Linked DNA regions of Homo sapiens: region 2 is linked to region 1. A link means that fine-mapping ties the variant in region 1 to the expression of a gene that starts in the linked region. Tissue or cell type: whole blood. Region 1 holds a variant in brackets; the other region holds the start of a gene. All regions are shown on one strand. Distances are from middle to middle.

The links. PIP is the estimated chance that this variant, and not a neighbour inherited with it, causes the effect.
Region 2: it holds the start of ESYT2, and the variant in region 1 is fine-mapped to the expression of ESYT2 in whole blood (TOPMed, PIP above 0.99).

What each region holds. Positions count from the first base shown.
Region 1 is chr7:158,632,984-158,641,088 of GRCh38, forward strand. All of the region lies in intron 27 of NCAPG2 (non-SMC condensin II complex subunit G2), which reads right to left. Among named protein-coding and RNA genes, the nearest start is that of MIR5707, 45 kb to the left of the region's middle. The variant T/C (reference allele first, on the strand shown) is at 4,033.
Region 2 is chr7:158,824,718-158,832,811 of GRCh38, forward strand. It overlaps ESYT2 (extended synaptotagmin 2), which reads right to left and starts at 4,792. Exons shown (of 23, transcript NM_001367773.1): 1 at 4,372-4,792. The coding sequence starts at 4,701. RefSeq lists enhancers at 3,566-3,635, 5,646-5,755 and silencers at 3,756-3,955, 4,036-4,085, 4,176-4,365, 4,416-4,515, 4,606-5,335.

The DNA of each region.
Region 1 (8,105 bases):
CTGCATGAATCTAGAAAAATTTTAAGATTTTCTCTTTATTCCTGGAATTTAGGAATCTTATCCATAATTATTTAGCTGTGATTTTTTTTTTCCATCAATCCAGAATGTAGTGAAAGAAAAAAGGGAATCTGCATATATTTCTTTAAGCTCTGGGGAATTTTTTCCTATCGTTGTTGAATCACTGCTTCTCCTTGCTGTTAGGTCTCTCGGGCCTTTTCCCCCAAGTCTATCCCCACCCTCGTGACCTCTCCTCGTGAGTATTTATGGTCTATGTTCTGAGACATCTCTCCAAATTGACCTTTCTGGAATTTGACTATCACAGGAACCATCTCTGTAGTGTGTCTGTGACACTTGAGCTCTAGACTGTCCTTTCGGGGTTACAGTTGACTCTTCTTCAAAGACTCTTATTACTCACCCACCACTATCACTCTGGAAGCGCCTGGGCCACCCTCTGTGTGGTTATTTCTGCCTGTGTTGAACCAGGGGTGAGGGCACAGCTATGTGGAGGCTGCCATGCAGCGACACAGGAGACTCTGGGTGCCCCACAGCCCCTTCACTCTCCCAGCCTCGCTGGGCCTCTACTGGACCTGCTGCCTCAGGGTCTCCTGCCCATTCCCTGAGTCCCCCAAGGAGAAGAGAGTGCTCTCTGTCCACAGACCAGGTTCCGCCCACCTGTCAGCCCAGCAACTGCCTGGCTCAGCAGCAGTGCAGCCAGAGGCAAGACAGAGGAGAACAGGCCCAGGAAGTCATGAACCCTCCAAAATCTAAAATTAATTTTTTTTTTTGAGACAGGGTCACGCTCTGTCACCCAGGCTGAAGTGCAGCAGTGAGGTCACAGCTCACTGCAGCCTTGACCTCTCGGGCTCAAGCAATCCTCCCAGCTCACCCTCCCAAGTAGCTGGGACTATGGTGCACACCACCACACCCAGCAGATTTTTTTGTATTTTTTGTAGAGATGGGGTTTCACCATGTTACCCAGTCTAGTAGTGAACTCAGCTTAAGCAATCTGCCCGCCTCAGCCTCCCAAAGTGATGGAATTACAGACACCATACCTGGCCTAAAATTAATTTTTAATTACTCAAAAATAATATTGTCTCCTTAAGTGAACATGAATTTAAAAATACTTTAGAGAAAAATGTTACGTTAAAAGTACAGTTAACCCTCACTATCTGTGGGAGATGTGTTCCAGGACCCCCCAGATACTAAAATCCACAGATGTTCAAGTCCCTGGTATAGTGTTTGCATATAGTCTACCCACATCCTCCTGTATGCTTTAAATCATCTCTAGACTACTTATAATACCTAATACAAGGTAAATGCTATGGTAATAATTGTTATACTATATTGTCTATATACTATATCGTCTATATTGTTATACTATACTAATAGTTGTTATACTATATACTATATTGTTTATCCTATACTGTTATATTATATTAGGGAATAATGACAAGGAAAAGTCTGTTCATATTCAGTACAGGCACAACCATCCATTTTTGTCCCAAATATTGTCAAACTATGGTTGGTTGGATTTACGAACGTGGAACCCATGGATACGGAGGGCCAAGTGTTCTCATTTACCAGGTAGTAAAGAGCTACTTACACTGACCTAAGTCTAGACTGGCAACAAGAATGACTCTTTATCGTTATCCTGTAACAGATAAGCTAACTGAGGCAAAAGTGGTAAAGCAAACTGCCCATGACCACTCAGATGGGAAGGGCAGTCTGGGTTTAAACCCAGGCCATTTTTCTCCTGCTACTGGAACACTACTGCAATACAAATTTACTCATTCTTCTATTACCTGAAGCAAGAATTGAACACACTATGTAAATCAGAGAAATAAGAACTACTAAAGAACAAATGAAGAAAACAAAATGAAGGAATTTTAAAGTTGGAAGGGACAGTGACAAAAAGCTTAGACAAAAAGCTCCCTGGGCCAGGGTTCTCCTGATATGTAACAAGACACACAGACCAGACCATGTGCAAGTCCCCTCAGCACTAACGTCTGTAAAATGTGTCAAACACGAGGACTCAAAACTTCGCCACCTTTCCTTCTATGTCAGGTTAGGATCACATGTTGGTGATCACAGCCACAAGAAACACAGCAGAATCAATTTTTTGAGAAAAACCGTAAGATAAAAAGACAGTGTCTGTATTTATTAAAGGGTGGTTTTACACATGAATACTTTTAAATTATCCACACCAATTTCATTGGGTATGGATGATGGAAGCATACCACTAAATAAGCTATAAAAAGCATCCAGCCTCAAATTCGTTTAAAAAAAAAGACTGTTAAAATTAAAGCAGAATAAAATGAATTGATATTCATTTATCAATACCTGATAACAAAAGAGAGGCCATTTTCAGGGAGTACTCTTTCCCTTCAAGGTTTAATGTTGGCACCTACATTATTTTACTATTAACGTTGCCTGCAAGTAGAGGCACAATTAATATTGGCAAGTAATTTGCTTGTAATATGATTAGTGGGGAAAATTCATGAGGTAACACAAACCTTAAGAAATATATTATTTATATTTGTAATTTATTTCAAATTACAAATTTATTACTATCGATACAATTTATGAAAGCAATAAATTTAACATACTTGACATTTAAATGCACCAGTGCATGGGCAAATGCATGTTGTTTCTCCTCAGAAAATGTCCAGTTTACAATATGCTATATCGGATGAGGCAATTAAAATGCAATGAGATGCCGATTTTTATTTAGCACCCAAAAGACAGACCAGTCAACAGAATACTAGCCCTGAAAACTAGATTAGTTGTTAAGAAAACGTGCACTTTTAAATCAAGCTCCACTGCCTAAAATATTAATTGGAGCAAGGGGTTCCCAGATTCTTAAAGATGTTTACTTGCTTTAATGTCTCTAGTCCAACGTTAAATCAATAATATTTTAAAATACAGTCTTAAATCTTAATTGTTTATCTTCCGTTAGATTGATTTTTCTTGTTTCATCAATTTGTCAGATTGATTTTTTTAGACACTGGTTTTTCTATAGTTTGCTTCTTGCATATTTAAGTAAGAAGCCAATATTTCACAGTCCTGACCTATTTATTTTCTAGGATGTTTCCTTCTTAAAGGGAGGAGCTCTTTTTTTCATCTGTGTATCATCTTAGTAGAGGGGATGGCATGCAGGTGAATAATGGAGAAACAAAACGCTCCATCCCCAGTGTTCTGTTCATGTCCTTTTCCACATTGTAAGTTCTGAATTTCTCAGGTCTTTTCTTCTCTCAATGTAACTAACATAATTCAAGTAGTTAGCCTGAAACTAAGTATAAGTGGAAATGGAAGGCATTCCTAGTGAGAAACCAATGTTCCTCTTCCCTTTCATCTTCAGAATAGTATACACTATTCTATATCCAAATAAGCCTTCCTTGGCAACATTATTTCTTTTTTTCTTTTTTTTTTTTTTTTGAGATGGAGTTTCACTCTTAATGCCCAGGCTGGAGTGCAATGGCTCGATCTGGGCTCACCGCAACCTCTGCCTTCCGGGTTCAAGTGATTCTCCTGCCTCAGCCTCCCAAGTAGCTGAGATTACAGGCATGTGCCACCATACCCAGCTAATTTTTGTACTTTTAGTAGAGACGGGGTTTCTCCATGTTGGTCAGGCTGGACTTGAACTCCCGACCTCAGGTGATCTGCCTGCCTCAGCCTCCCAAAGTGCTGGGATTACAGGCATAAGCCACTGTGCCCGGCCAACATTATTTCTAATAAAGAAAAATGCTTAGACTTTTGAGGTTGTTACTACATCCTGTGAAAACAATTTAACATTCTTACAGTTGGTAATTCTGGTCATCTTGTTTAATATTTGTGCCTGATGGACCATTTACATCATTGCCACTTATTTTCTGAAATGGACAAGTGCTCCTCTGTCATCCCCAAATCAGACCACTGCCCTAAAAACAAGCTCCTAAGGCCAATAGTCTATTGGGTTTCCTCTTCTTCTTCTTCTTTTTTTTTTGAGACGGAGCCCTGCTCTGTCACCCAGGCTGGAATGCAGTGGTGTGATCT[T/C]GGCTCACTGCAAGTTCCGCCTCCCGGGTTCATGCCATTCTCCTGCCTCAGCCTCCCGAGCAGCTGGGACTACAGGCGCCCGCCACCATGCCCGGCTAATTTTTTATATTTTTAGTAGAGACGGGGTTTCACCGTGTTAGCCAGGATGGTCTCGATCTCCTGACCTCGTGATCCACCTGCCTTGGCCTCCCAAAGTGCTGAGAGGGTTTCTTCTTAAAATATAAAGTTGCAAAGTCTAACCTGATTAAAACTAGCATAGTGGACACTCAATCATTTTTAGAATAAAGTACATAATTGAATGCATTTCATTCACTCAGTCGCTAGGAGCCCAAACCCACCCACCTGCTTTAGTGCCCAGTTCAACGTCCCATCACCGTGGGGTGCTGGAAGGTCACTGGGGAAGGAGGGGACTTTCTCCAGGTTTCCGTAAGGCCCCCCTTTCTCCAGCAGACTCTGACAGCACAAGCAGCACACCAGACAACTACCCCACAAGCCCCCACCCCATCCGAGCCACACACAGGAGCCTGTGGGACTCAAGAGAGTAGGCTTTCCAGCTCCGGCTCCAGCAGCTCCCCAGCACCTCCCCTGCGATGGCTCCACATCCCCCCGGCCCACCACCCACCCAGGTGAGTGGACGTCCTCAGGTCCCACAGAAGGCCGCTAACAATTTCTTCCACGTAGGAAGCCAGGTCTCCCTGTCCGGGTGGGGGCTCCTTCCTTGGCGGCGCTCACCTAGGGTTGGAGGTGTTCTCTTCATCTGCTAGTCCTGTATTCTCTAGAGTTCTCTTTAACTCTCACTAGCCAATAACCCATCGTGCCAACTCCCTATAAAAATCCCTGACACTTGGCTGGGCACGGTGGCTCACCCCTGTAATCCCAGCACTTTGGGAGGCCGAGGCGGGCGGATCACTTGAGGCCAGGAGTTCAAGACCAGCCTGGCCAACATGGTGAAACTCCGTCTCTACTAAAAATACAAAAATTAGCCGGGCATGGTGGCGCATGCCTGTAATCCCAGCTACTCGGGAGGCTGATGCACAAGAATTACTTGAACCTGGGAGGCAAAGGTTGCAGTGAGCCAAGATCGCACCACTGCACTACAGCCTGCATAACAGAGGGAGACTCTTGTCTCAAAAACAAACAAAAAAATCCCTGACACTGAGCTTTCCCTATCCGAATCACTGCGTGGTTTTGGTCTTCTCCTGGAACCTGACAAACACACAGAAAAACATTGTTTTTTGTTTGTTTGCTTTTGAGACAAGTCTTGCTCTGTTGCCAAGACTGGAGTGCGGTGGCGCAATCTCAACCCACTGCAACCTCCACCTCAAGCAATCCTCCCACCTCAGCTGTCCATGTAGCTGGGACTATAGGCACATGCTACCACACCTGTCTAATATTTGTATTTTTTGTAGAGATGAGGTCTCGCTGTGTTGCTCAAACTGGTCTTGAACCCCTGAGCTCAAGCAATCCACCCACCTTAGCCTCCCATAGTGTTGGGATTACAGACGCGAGCCACCATGCCCAGCCAACATTGTTATCTCAGTACCTGACAAAGTGGAGTAAAGAGAGACCCTTTATTAAAATAAAAGGGTCAATTAATCAAGAACATACAGCAGTTCTAAACTTATATGCACCTAATAACAGGGCCATAAAATATATAATGCAAAAGCAGTCCTAAATATGATACTTGGACAAATTCACAAGCATAATGAGAAATTTAACACAAGTCTCTGTAGAATAAGTAACAAAAAATCAGTAAAAACATAGAAAAGTTGAGGTAACACAATTAACGAACGTGAACTGATCAGGTGGCACTCCACCTCTCTAAAACACACACTCCTATGCACAAGCACTCACAAATGCTGTGTGTGAGCCACAGAGCCAGTCTCAGACGTACAATCAAAAAAGACAAAAAAGAAATGGTGTTAAAAGCCACAGTAAACATAAACCTCATATCAAGTATAAAACCACACACACTTTGCTCTTCATCCGGACAATGCCCAAAATTATACTGAGGTATTGGGGTGGGCTGATACCTTCAAACAGGGAGAGAGGGACCATGTTCAGGAGGTGTATTCCTCGATTTAGGTGGTGACTGAATTTTTTTTTTTTTAAGACAGGGTCTCACTCTGTCACCCAGGCTGGAATGCAGTGACGTGATCTCGGCTCACTGCAGCATCAACCTCCTGGGCTCAAGTGATCCTCCCACCTCAGCCTCTTGGGTAGCTGGGACCACAGGTGAGTGCCACAATATCCAACTAATTTCTATATTTTTTGTAGAGACAGGGTTTTGCCACATTGCCCAGGCTGGTTGCGAACTCCTAGACTCAAGCAATTCACCTGCCTTGGCCTCCCAAAGTGCTGGGATTACAGCTGTAAGCCACCGCACCTGGCTTGTGAGTGCATTTTATAACAATTAATTCAGTGGTACACATATTATTTACATTCTTTTCCATATGTATATCTCAATGAGTAAATTCTATTCTATTAAAATCAATAAACAAAAACCACAAGCCATTTTGTTAATAAATTTAAAAATCTAGACCAATGCAAGAAATTGTAAATTACCAAAATTTATTCAGGCAGTAATAGGAAATCAGACCCAACTACTAACATAGAAGAAACAGGGAAAAGTCATCCCAGATTTCTGGGGGTATGTTGTTCCACAGCATCAGATGTGATTTAAACTGCTCCACAACACTGAAAAGGGAGAAGTTACCAACTAATGCTGAGAGCAAAACTGGTAGAGGTCCTACTGAAAAAACAAAAACAAAACACTACAAAACAAAACAACCAACAACCATTTAATCTTATTTCAAACCTAATGCAAACATTCTCAAATAAAATATTAGCAAACAGAATTCAAAAATGCAGCTGTTTTGATAGAATGAAATATCCAAGACCTGTGAGACAACTGTAAAAGGTGTTAACATGTATAATAAGAATTTCAGAAGAGAGAAAGGAACAGAAGAAATATTCAGACAATAATAACTGAGAATTTATCCAGGAAGCTCATAGAATACTGAATAGAATAAATGCCAAAAAAAAAAAAAAAAAAGAAAAGAAAACTACACCTAGGCATATCATATTCAACCTACAGAAAAATCAAACAAAGAAAAAGTATTGAAAGAAACCAGATAGGGAAAAATACACCTTATCTACTGAGGAGCAAAAAAGAATTATATCCTATTTCTCAGATACTACACGAGCCAAGAAGAGAGTATAGCGAAATGTTTAAAGTACAGAGAGTGGCCGGGCACGGGGAGTAATCCCAGCAATTTGAGAAGCTGAGGCGAGTAGATCACTTGAGATCAAGAATTCGAGACCAGCCTGGGCAACATGGTGAAGCCCTGTCTCCACTAATACAAAAATGAGCTGGGTGTGGCGGCGATGTGCCTGTATACCAGCTACTCAGCAGGCTGAGGTACAAGAATCGTTTGAACTTAGGAGGCAGAGGTTGCAGTGAACTGAGATCACACCACTGCGTTCCACCCTAGGCAACAGAGCAAGACTCTGTCTCAAAAAATAATAATAATAAATTAAATAAAGTACAGAGAGAAAAAAATTCATCAACTAGAATTATAAACTACATAACATTATCCCTGCAAAGAAATAAAGTAGAAGTAAAAGACTCTCTGACAAACCAAAATTAAGAGAATTAGTTGCCAGTAGACATGCCTTGAAAGAAGCATTAAAAGAAGTTCTCTGGAGGGAAGGAAAAGAATATAGGTCAGAATTTGGATCAACACAAACAAAGGAGAAGCATCAAAGAAGGAGTAAGTGAAGGTAAATAAAAACTTTTATTTTTCTTATTCTTAAATGACCTAAGATGTAGTTTGTTCAAAATAATAATAGCAACAATATATTCAATTATGTATGCTTATGTCTGCTTATACCTTAGCAAAATGAATGACAGCAATGATACAAGGAACGAGAGGCAAGGATTAGGATTATTTTGTTATTATATACCACCCTACCTGCAAAGTGGTATAGTGTCATCTGAAAGCAAACGTGGATTAGTTATAAATGAAAACTCCAACTCTAAAGCAACCACTAAGAAAGATAAAAACAAATAA
Region 2 (8,094 bases), 190 kb after region 1:
GCCATACAATCAGCATTTATTGGCAATAGTAAAAGCAGGATAGAGTCAGACTTTATCCTATGAAGAGATAATATTTTCAAATAAATAAAAATAGTAATGAAAAATTGCCCTTATTAATCTCTATAAAAACTCTTCAAGAATCTTCCTCACAGCCCTGAGCATGGTGGCATGCAACTGTAATCCCAGCTACTTGGGAGACTCACGTAGGTGGTTCGCTTGAGCCCAAGAGTTGAGCCCAAGAGTTCAAGCCTGGGGAACACAGCGAGAACCGCCTCTCTTTAAAAAACAAAAAAGGCTGGGCGCGGTGGTTCATGCCTGTAATCCCAGCACTTTGGGAGGCCAAGGCTGGTGGATCACCTGAGGTCAGGAGTTTGAGACCAGCCTGGCCAACATGGTGAAACCCTGTCTCTACTAAAAACACAAAAATTAGCCAGACGTGGTGACGGGCGCCTGTACTCCCAGCTACTTGGGAGGCTGAGGCAGGAGAGTCGCTTAAACCCGGGAGGCAGAGGTTGCGGTGAGCCGAGACCATGCCACTGCCCTTCATCCTGGGCAACAGAGTGAGACTCCGTCTCAAAAATAAATAAATAAATGAAATAATAAATAAATAAATCTTCTCTTCTTCACCCAGGGTAGTCTAATGGTCCAGGGCCCATTACCACAGGGTAGACACTTAAACAACAAAAAGCCCTGTCCTCAATTCATCCAGCCTGCCAGGCCTTTCCCCTAAGCAGTTGGAACATAACTGTTCATGGGAAAAGAAGTGAAGAATAACAACACTGTTTATATTAAAGCTGTAGGACCAAACTTACAGAATTATCACAGTTAAGTGAGAGCCATCTGTCACATCCTAATAGCCTCAATCAGGAACAGTACATATAGTTTCTCAAAGTATTAATACTCTTATCTCATTTCCATATCCAGCTTCAGTTTTTACTCAGTAAGAAGAAAAGCTGTCAGTGAATATATACAAAGGTGAGGTGAGGAAATTAGTATCTCCTTAATTCATGTTTTCCTATGTTTCCACTCTGCCATGAATTCACGGTTGTCAACGACACACTATGAAAACAAGTACAGCCTTTGGGATGTACAGATACATCTTGTTCAAGGCAAAATACCAGTCCAAAGTTCAGAAACCCCAAGCACCAATGTATGTATGGTAAAAATCAAGGTACTAGTAATATTGGCCAGGCATGGTGGCTCACACCTGTAATCCCCACACTTTAGGAAGTCTAAGTGGGAGGATGCCTCGAGGCCAAAAGTTTGAGACCAGCCTGGACAACGCGGTAAGAACTCATCTCTAGAAAAAAAAAAAAACAAAAACAAACCCAAAGTGCAAGTAATACTGAAATCTTAACTTTTCTTATTCATAGTTTCTTCTATTATTGATGTGCTTTGACCACCCCCACCACCCCTGCCGCGCAGCAGAATTTCAGGCACACTTCGAGACCATGCAACCTGCTGGTTTTATTATGAAAATAAAGTATATTACACTTTTAATAAATATCACAAAATAGATACATAAGTATAATTTAAAAGATATTTTTAAAATCTCTCTAAAACTGTCAACATAATCACTGTCAAGTTTCATGTGAATCCTTCAAGAAGCGTCTTAAGCATCCTAGGCACACTGAAGTTTACACATGTGGGATTATGAGCTCAAGTACAAATTTGGAATAAACAAGTAAAACATTCTGGAGAAAATATAAATTCTTCATGAGGTGAACACCACAGTTCATCAGTTTAAGTCACACAGATTAAAAACTTGAAAAGAATCTTTGGCTAAATTACTTTTGTATTTTTTTTTTTTTTAAAGAATTTCAGGCTGGGCGCAGTGGCTCACACCTGTAATCCCAGCACTTTAGGAGGCTGAGGCGGGTGGATCACGAGGTCAAGAGATCGAGACCATCCTGGCCAACATGGTGAAACCCAGTCTCTACTAAAAATACAAAAATTAACTGGGTGTGGTGGTGTGCGCCTGTAGTCCCAGCTATTCGGGAGGCTGAGGCAGGAGAATGGCTTGAACCCGGGAGGCGGAGGTTGCAGTGAGTTGAGATGGTGCCACTGCACTTCAGCCTGGCAACAGAGCGAGATTCCGTCTCAAAAAAAAAAAAAAAAATTTCAGTTCTTCAATAGGGCAGCAATTTCATCTGTACAGTCTGTGTGGCCGGGCGCGGTGGCTCACGCCTGTAATCCCTGCACTTGGGGAGGCCAAGGCAGGCGGAACACAAGGTCAGGAGTTTGAGACCAGCCTGGCCAACATGGTGAAACCCTGTTTCTACTAAAAATACAAAGATTAGCTGGGCGTGATGGTGCACGCCTGTAATCCCAGCTACTCGGGAGGCTGAGGCAGGAGAATCTTTTGAACCCTGGAGGCGGAGGTTGTAGTGAGCCGAGATCACGCCATTGCACTCCAGCCTGGGCAACAGGGAGAGGCTCTGTCTCAAAAAAAAAAAAAAAAGAAAAGAAAAAGAAAATCTGTGTTTCACAAAGATTTTTAACAAGCAAATTTGATATTAGCCAATAACCAAGTATCTATGAAAGTCAGCATCATCACTTCCTGCAAATTTCAGCACTGATAACATTGCTATGTTATCAATATAACATAGCAATGGATGCTAATGGACTCTGTTTTTAGCTACTTTTTAGTATTATGCATCTTAGTGTAATATAGACACAAAACGTCACTTTAAAGTCCTTTTCCATTTCCAAAGTGCACCTCCTCTGTTCTTAGTTTTCCCCACCTCGGTTCCTCTTAACTTCCTTTTTCTACACACCCCTCGGTTTTTCCCGCCGCTAGCTAAAAGCTGCACCATGCCAGTTACCTTGGTTCTCCAAATATGACTCCCTCATGCTCACCACGCATCGGCAGAACTGTACATTCCCAAGCTCCTTACATTATATTCTTACTCCAGTTGCAATATGACGTCACAAAGTAGCATCTACTACCTTCTTCTTGTCTTGGGCACGCCTCCTTTCTAATTCTTGTTTGCCATCTGTGTCATGCCTTACTTCTCAGGTGTCTCATGACTGGAAACAGGGACTTTTCTCCTCTAAGAGAAAATGACCCTTCCGAAACCCACTGCTGGTCACCTTCACCCCAAAGTTTATATTAAGCCTAATGGAAGAATCATTAAAATCCTTTCTTGCAGTGTGAAACTGTGAAGCCAAGTCATGGCTAAGAAAGAATTAGGGAATGACAAGAAAAAGATTTGAAGCCAACTCTTCGTGTCTATAGTCCATAAATATACGAGGTAGAGAACTGCCGGGTTAAAAATAAAATAATACCATGACTCTTGTTATTGCTGCAACTCTTCCAAAACTTCCTGCCACACACACACACATTCACACTGGATTCAGGTCGATCCCATATAAAAATGCTCAGTCTCACAATTATACTTGCAAAAAAACTGAAACAATCTTTCAATTATCTAATATCTCCACATCTTTCGAGAGACACTTACTGCCCTTGAAATGCGTCAGAAACAACCAAGACACGAGTGCGTCTTCTCCCGGTAGAAGAAAAAGTTAACTTCTCCCCCACCAGCTGTCATTACGTTTTTTAAAAAACAGAGAGAAGGAAAAGCTGAAGCCACCCGGAGCATTTCCAGGCCGGCAGGGCTTTGGGAATGCGCACGAGAATCGCGCTGGGCGCTCTGAGAGCAGAACCGGCCGCTCAGGCCCCTAAGGAGACCCCGCGGGCGGCACCAGGAGGAAGCGCGCGCTCCGGGCAGGGCCGCGGCCGAAGAGGGGGCGCCAAGCCCGGTACCTGCCGCTGGCGCTCGGGGTCTGCAGGCCGGGGGAGGGAAGCGGGCTTTGTGAAGAGGGGTCTCCGAGAAAGCCGCGCGGGACGGCGAGGGGAGGCTTCACGAGGGCAGACGCGCCCCGGACCCGGAGCCTGGGCGGGCGGGGAAGCGGAGAAGGGGACGCCCGACTTGGACGGAGGGAGGGCACGGAGCACTCAGGACTAGGGCGGGAGCGGCGAGCAGCGGGCGGCGGCCCCAGGCGGACAGGTTCGCAGGGAGTGGGCCGGAGGCCGGGGCGGGGCTGGGGTCTGCACTCGCCCTAGCGGGCAGGTCGCCAGCAGGCTGGGAGTCGGGGCCGGGGGGCGGGGCGGGGTCTGCACTCACCTAGGTTGGCAGGTCGCAGGAACCGGCCCGGGGGCCGGGGCTGGGGTCTGCACTCGCCCAGGCGGAAGGGAAGCGCCTGCCTGGACCGGGGTGGGTGGGGGACTACGAAGGCGGGAGCCGGGGCAGGGCTGGGGTCTGCACTCACCCAGGCGGCAGGTCGCGGGGAGGGGAGTGCCTGCCTGGACGAGGGGAGATCGGGACTGGTGGTCAGGGGTCGGGACGGGCAGGGGTCTGCACTCACCCAGGCGGGCAGGTCGCAGGCGCGCACCCCCAGGCGCACGACGCGCTCCTCGTCTTCCAGCAGCGCCAGCGCGCGGCACAGGCGCAGGGCCTTGAGGCCGCGGCTGCGGCGACACCAGGCGAGCAGCGCGAGCGCGAGGAGAACCCAGCTGAAGCTGAGCCCCAGGTAGCCCAGCGCGTACACGGGCAGCAGCAGCGCGAAGCTCCGCGCCAGCTGCGCCAGCAGCCCGGGCAGCTCCACGCTCAGCACGCCCCCGGGGTTCTCAGGCGCCGCGCGGCCCCCAGCCCCGCCGGCGCCCGCCTCCGGGCCCTCGCCCCGGGCGCCGCTCATCGCCCCGCAGTGCCGCGCTGCCCTCCCGGCCGAGGCGGGCTGGGTGCTCGCGCTGATCCCGGGCGGCTCAGCCCCGCGCCAGCGCCCCTCTGAGGGGACGCGGCTCCGCCGCACGCCCGCCTCCGCCCGGGACGGTGGCGTCATCACGCGGGGCGGGAGCGGCGTGGGCCTGGGGCTGGCACGTCACCGGGAGCGGGCGGGGTGGATACTGACGTCATCGCGCGGGGCGGGCCGTGGGCCGGGTCGGAGACTACTGGAGTGGGCCGGGCAGGCGCACGACGTCATCACGCGAGCGTTGTGTCTCGGCTGGCGGGAGCCGGGGACGGGAAAGGAGAGTGCTCGGTGCGTGGGCTGGGCGTGCCTGCGTCCCCTCGAGCCCCACGGGGCACCCTCCCCACTTGCCTGTGGCCTCGGAGCCCGCGGGCGGTTTTGGCTCGGCGTCGCGCCCCGAGGCGGCTTCCGGGTGCGTGGCTGCGCTCGCCGAGGCCCGGGAAGTTGCCGTCGTCAAACCCAAAGGCTGACCGCCTCTGGGAGCTGCTGGCAAACGTGGGGGTGCGCGGCCGCTGAGCGCAGCCGGGGTGGCGGTGGGATGAGAGGGCGGCGTCCCTGTTTGCGGTCATTTTGCGGCCAGGAGGACGGGTGAGAGGGCGCCGCCCGCCGGAGGTCGGACGGGCGCCGCTGGCGGGAGTCCTCCGGTATTTTTCGGTGTGAGGTTGCCTAGCCAGTGTGCAAGGTTGTGGCTTTTGCGGAGTCTCTCGGGACGGTCTTGTTATCGGGCATTCCGGCGTGAGAACGCTGCCTCTGGGGCCCTTCCCACCCTGCTTGTCAGGGTTTTAAACACAAACGACTCCGTTGTGACCTTGACAACTCTCACACAGTTCAGTTGGCTTTTAAGATGCCTTTAATCCCAAAAGTCCTCCCTGAGGGGTCTGGTAGTGCCGGGCAAAGACCACCGCAAGCGCCCAAGGGACGCTGTTGACACTCGGGAACTCCACCCCGGGCACCACGCAGCTTCGCCGAAGGTGTTAATATTGTGGCCAACTATGAATAGCTGTTTCAAACGACTAATTTTGGGCCTTTCCTGTGATTCCTGAGGTCACTTTTCAGTTAACTCAAAAACACAACTATTGATCACTTTACTTTCCAGTGAATTCAATCGAGTTAATTATATTTGTTCTGTAGTTTCTTTCAAGGAAACTCCAAGCCAAACAGTAGCAAAGAACATCCTACTTGACTGTTTTTGAGCATATTCAGTGAATTCCAAGGAAATTTTTACTGAATTTGTAACAGAGTAGGGCACTGGCAGGTACTGAATGAATAAACAAATGCCCAGAAGAAGCAGGGTCACCTTTACATAGGAATCTGTCTCCCCTCGTTCCTGCGTCTTCATAATTTTGTGTGCATATGTATGTGGAGATTATATCACATATGTAAAACATTGCAGAGTCTAAACTCTCAACTCCAGGCAAGGGCAGTAAACCCCAAGCAAGGAATGGAAGTGGTTTCCCTTTTCTTACTCTTCACAGTCCCTGGTTTGCTGCAGCAACAAATTATATTATGTAGATTGTAAATATGCAACCGGTTAATGCTCCTAACACCACCTTTCATTCAAAACTAAGCCTCAACACAAAAGCAAGTAATTGCTTTGTTGACACAGAAAGGAGCCTGAGCCTTTCTTTTGCAGCTTTCCTCTACTGGAAAATTGTAGGATCACATCCTACAAAGACTTGCATAAACATAAGCCACGTAAAAAATTCTGTAATCCCAGCACTTTGGGAGGCCGAGGAGGGCAGATCACGAGGTCAGGAGATCAAGACCATCCTGGCCAACATGGTGAAACCCCGTCTCTACTAAAAATAACAAAAAATTAGCCGCGCATGGCGGCGCGCACCTGGAGTCCCAGCTACTCGGGAGGCTGAGGCAGGAGAATTACTTGAACCCGGGAGGCGGAGGTTGCAGTGAGTCGAGATCGCACCACTGCACTCCAGCCTGGGCGACAGAGCAAGACTACGTCTCAAGAAAAAAAAAAAAATCCTGTGCCATGTGCCATCCAGTGGTTGACCCAAGGATGTAAACTAGATTGAAGAGAAGTTTCCATGTTGCATACCAGTCAGCCCAAGTGTCCTCAGCTTCCCTCTGTGTGAGCCCCGGGTTTCCAGCCCCTCCCTGTGGTTAATTGCCTGCAGAAAGCAGATCCTAAGGCTCTGCCACAGCTCAGTCTTACAGGTGTCTGGTCTGACTGCAGGTCCAGCTCGGCTCTTAGATTTTTGCTAATATTATACCCCTCAATCTCCTGTGACCTTTCATGACCCCTCCATCCTTTCCTTCTTGTAGACAAGGAGAAGTGCTGCTTTCTCTGGAGTGTCATTCCGAGTGCTCCGGTGCACAGCTGCGAAGTTCCAGCCTTCCTGGTTTCAGAGGAAAGTGCTATCTTGTGCTTAGGTTCAACTCTTCCTGCTTTTGGGTCCTCCCCCACACCTCTAAATACGTCTCGTTATGGAGGGTGGGAGCACGTGCTCTGCATCTCTTCAATTTGGAGGTTATACCAGCAAATTAAATATACTGGGGACAGTGAAAGCCAGGTTTCTTGCTGTTGGAGAAGGTAAAAACATGGAAGAGGGAAGGCTAAAAAGAACACTGAGGGATTGGATTGGAACTGGAAGTGGTAGTATGAACTCATTTTTTTAAAATATGTATATACAGATAGATATAAAGATAGCTGTATGTGTGTGCACACATGTGTAGGTATATGTGCATATAAACACAGAAATAGTTTCTAGTTCTGTCTGCTGAGTATCTAGATGCAATGGTACCCCAGTACCAGTGATCACAGCTAGCCCCCAGATCTTATCTTCTAAATAAGGTTTTCCAACAAAAGGAATCAGGGCTCTTTGGAGAAATGGTTAATTTCAGGGCTGGAGTGGAAGTACAAGATGATCCTGGAATAATTTTGTTGTTCAAGGAAGTGAAGAAGTGCTCAAAGATTGACAGGAGATCAAAGGACATGGAAAGTAGTTGGAGGGAGTTCTTGCTGGCGAAATCTAGGACAATTTGAGCAACAAAACAAAGAATGATATTGGCAGATTACCACTGAGTGAGCAAAATAGAAACGCATGAGTTGAGTCCACACTGATGTAGATCAACAAACCAGTGATGAATGCAGGGAAAATAATAGTGGAGAAGGGGAGGTTCTTCTTTACAGTAGAATGTGAACTCATAAATGGAGAAGGAATTATGAGAATGGAAATAACCATTTACCAATCACTGTAGTGGGGTTGTTGCAGGAGTGAGAATGGAAATAACCATTTACCAATCACTGTAGTGGGGTTGTTGCAGGAGTGAGCTATCAATGGAGGCTCAGGGTGGTAGGTGGAGATTTGATGAGGAATGAGA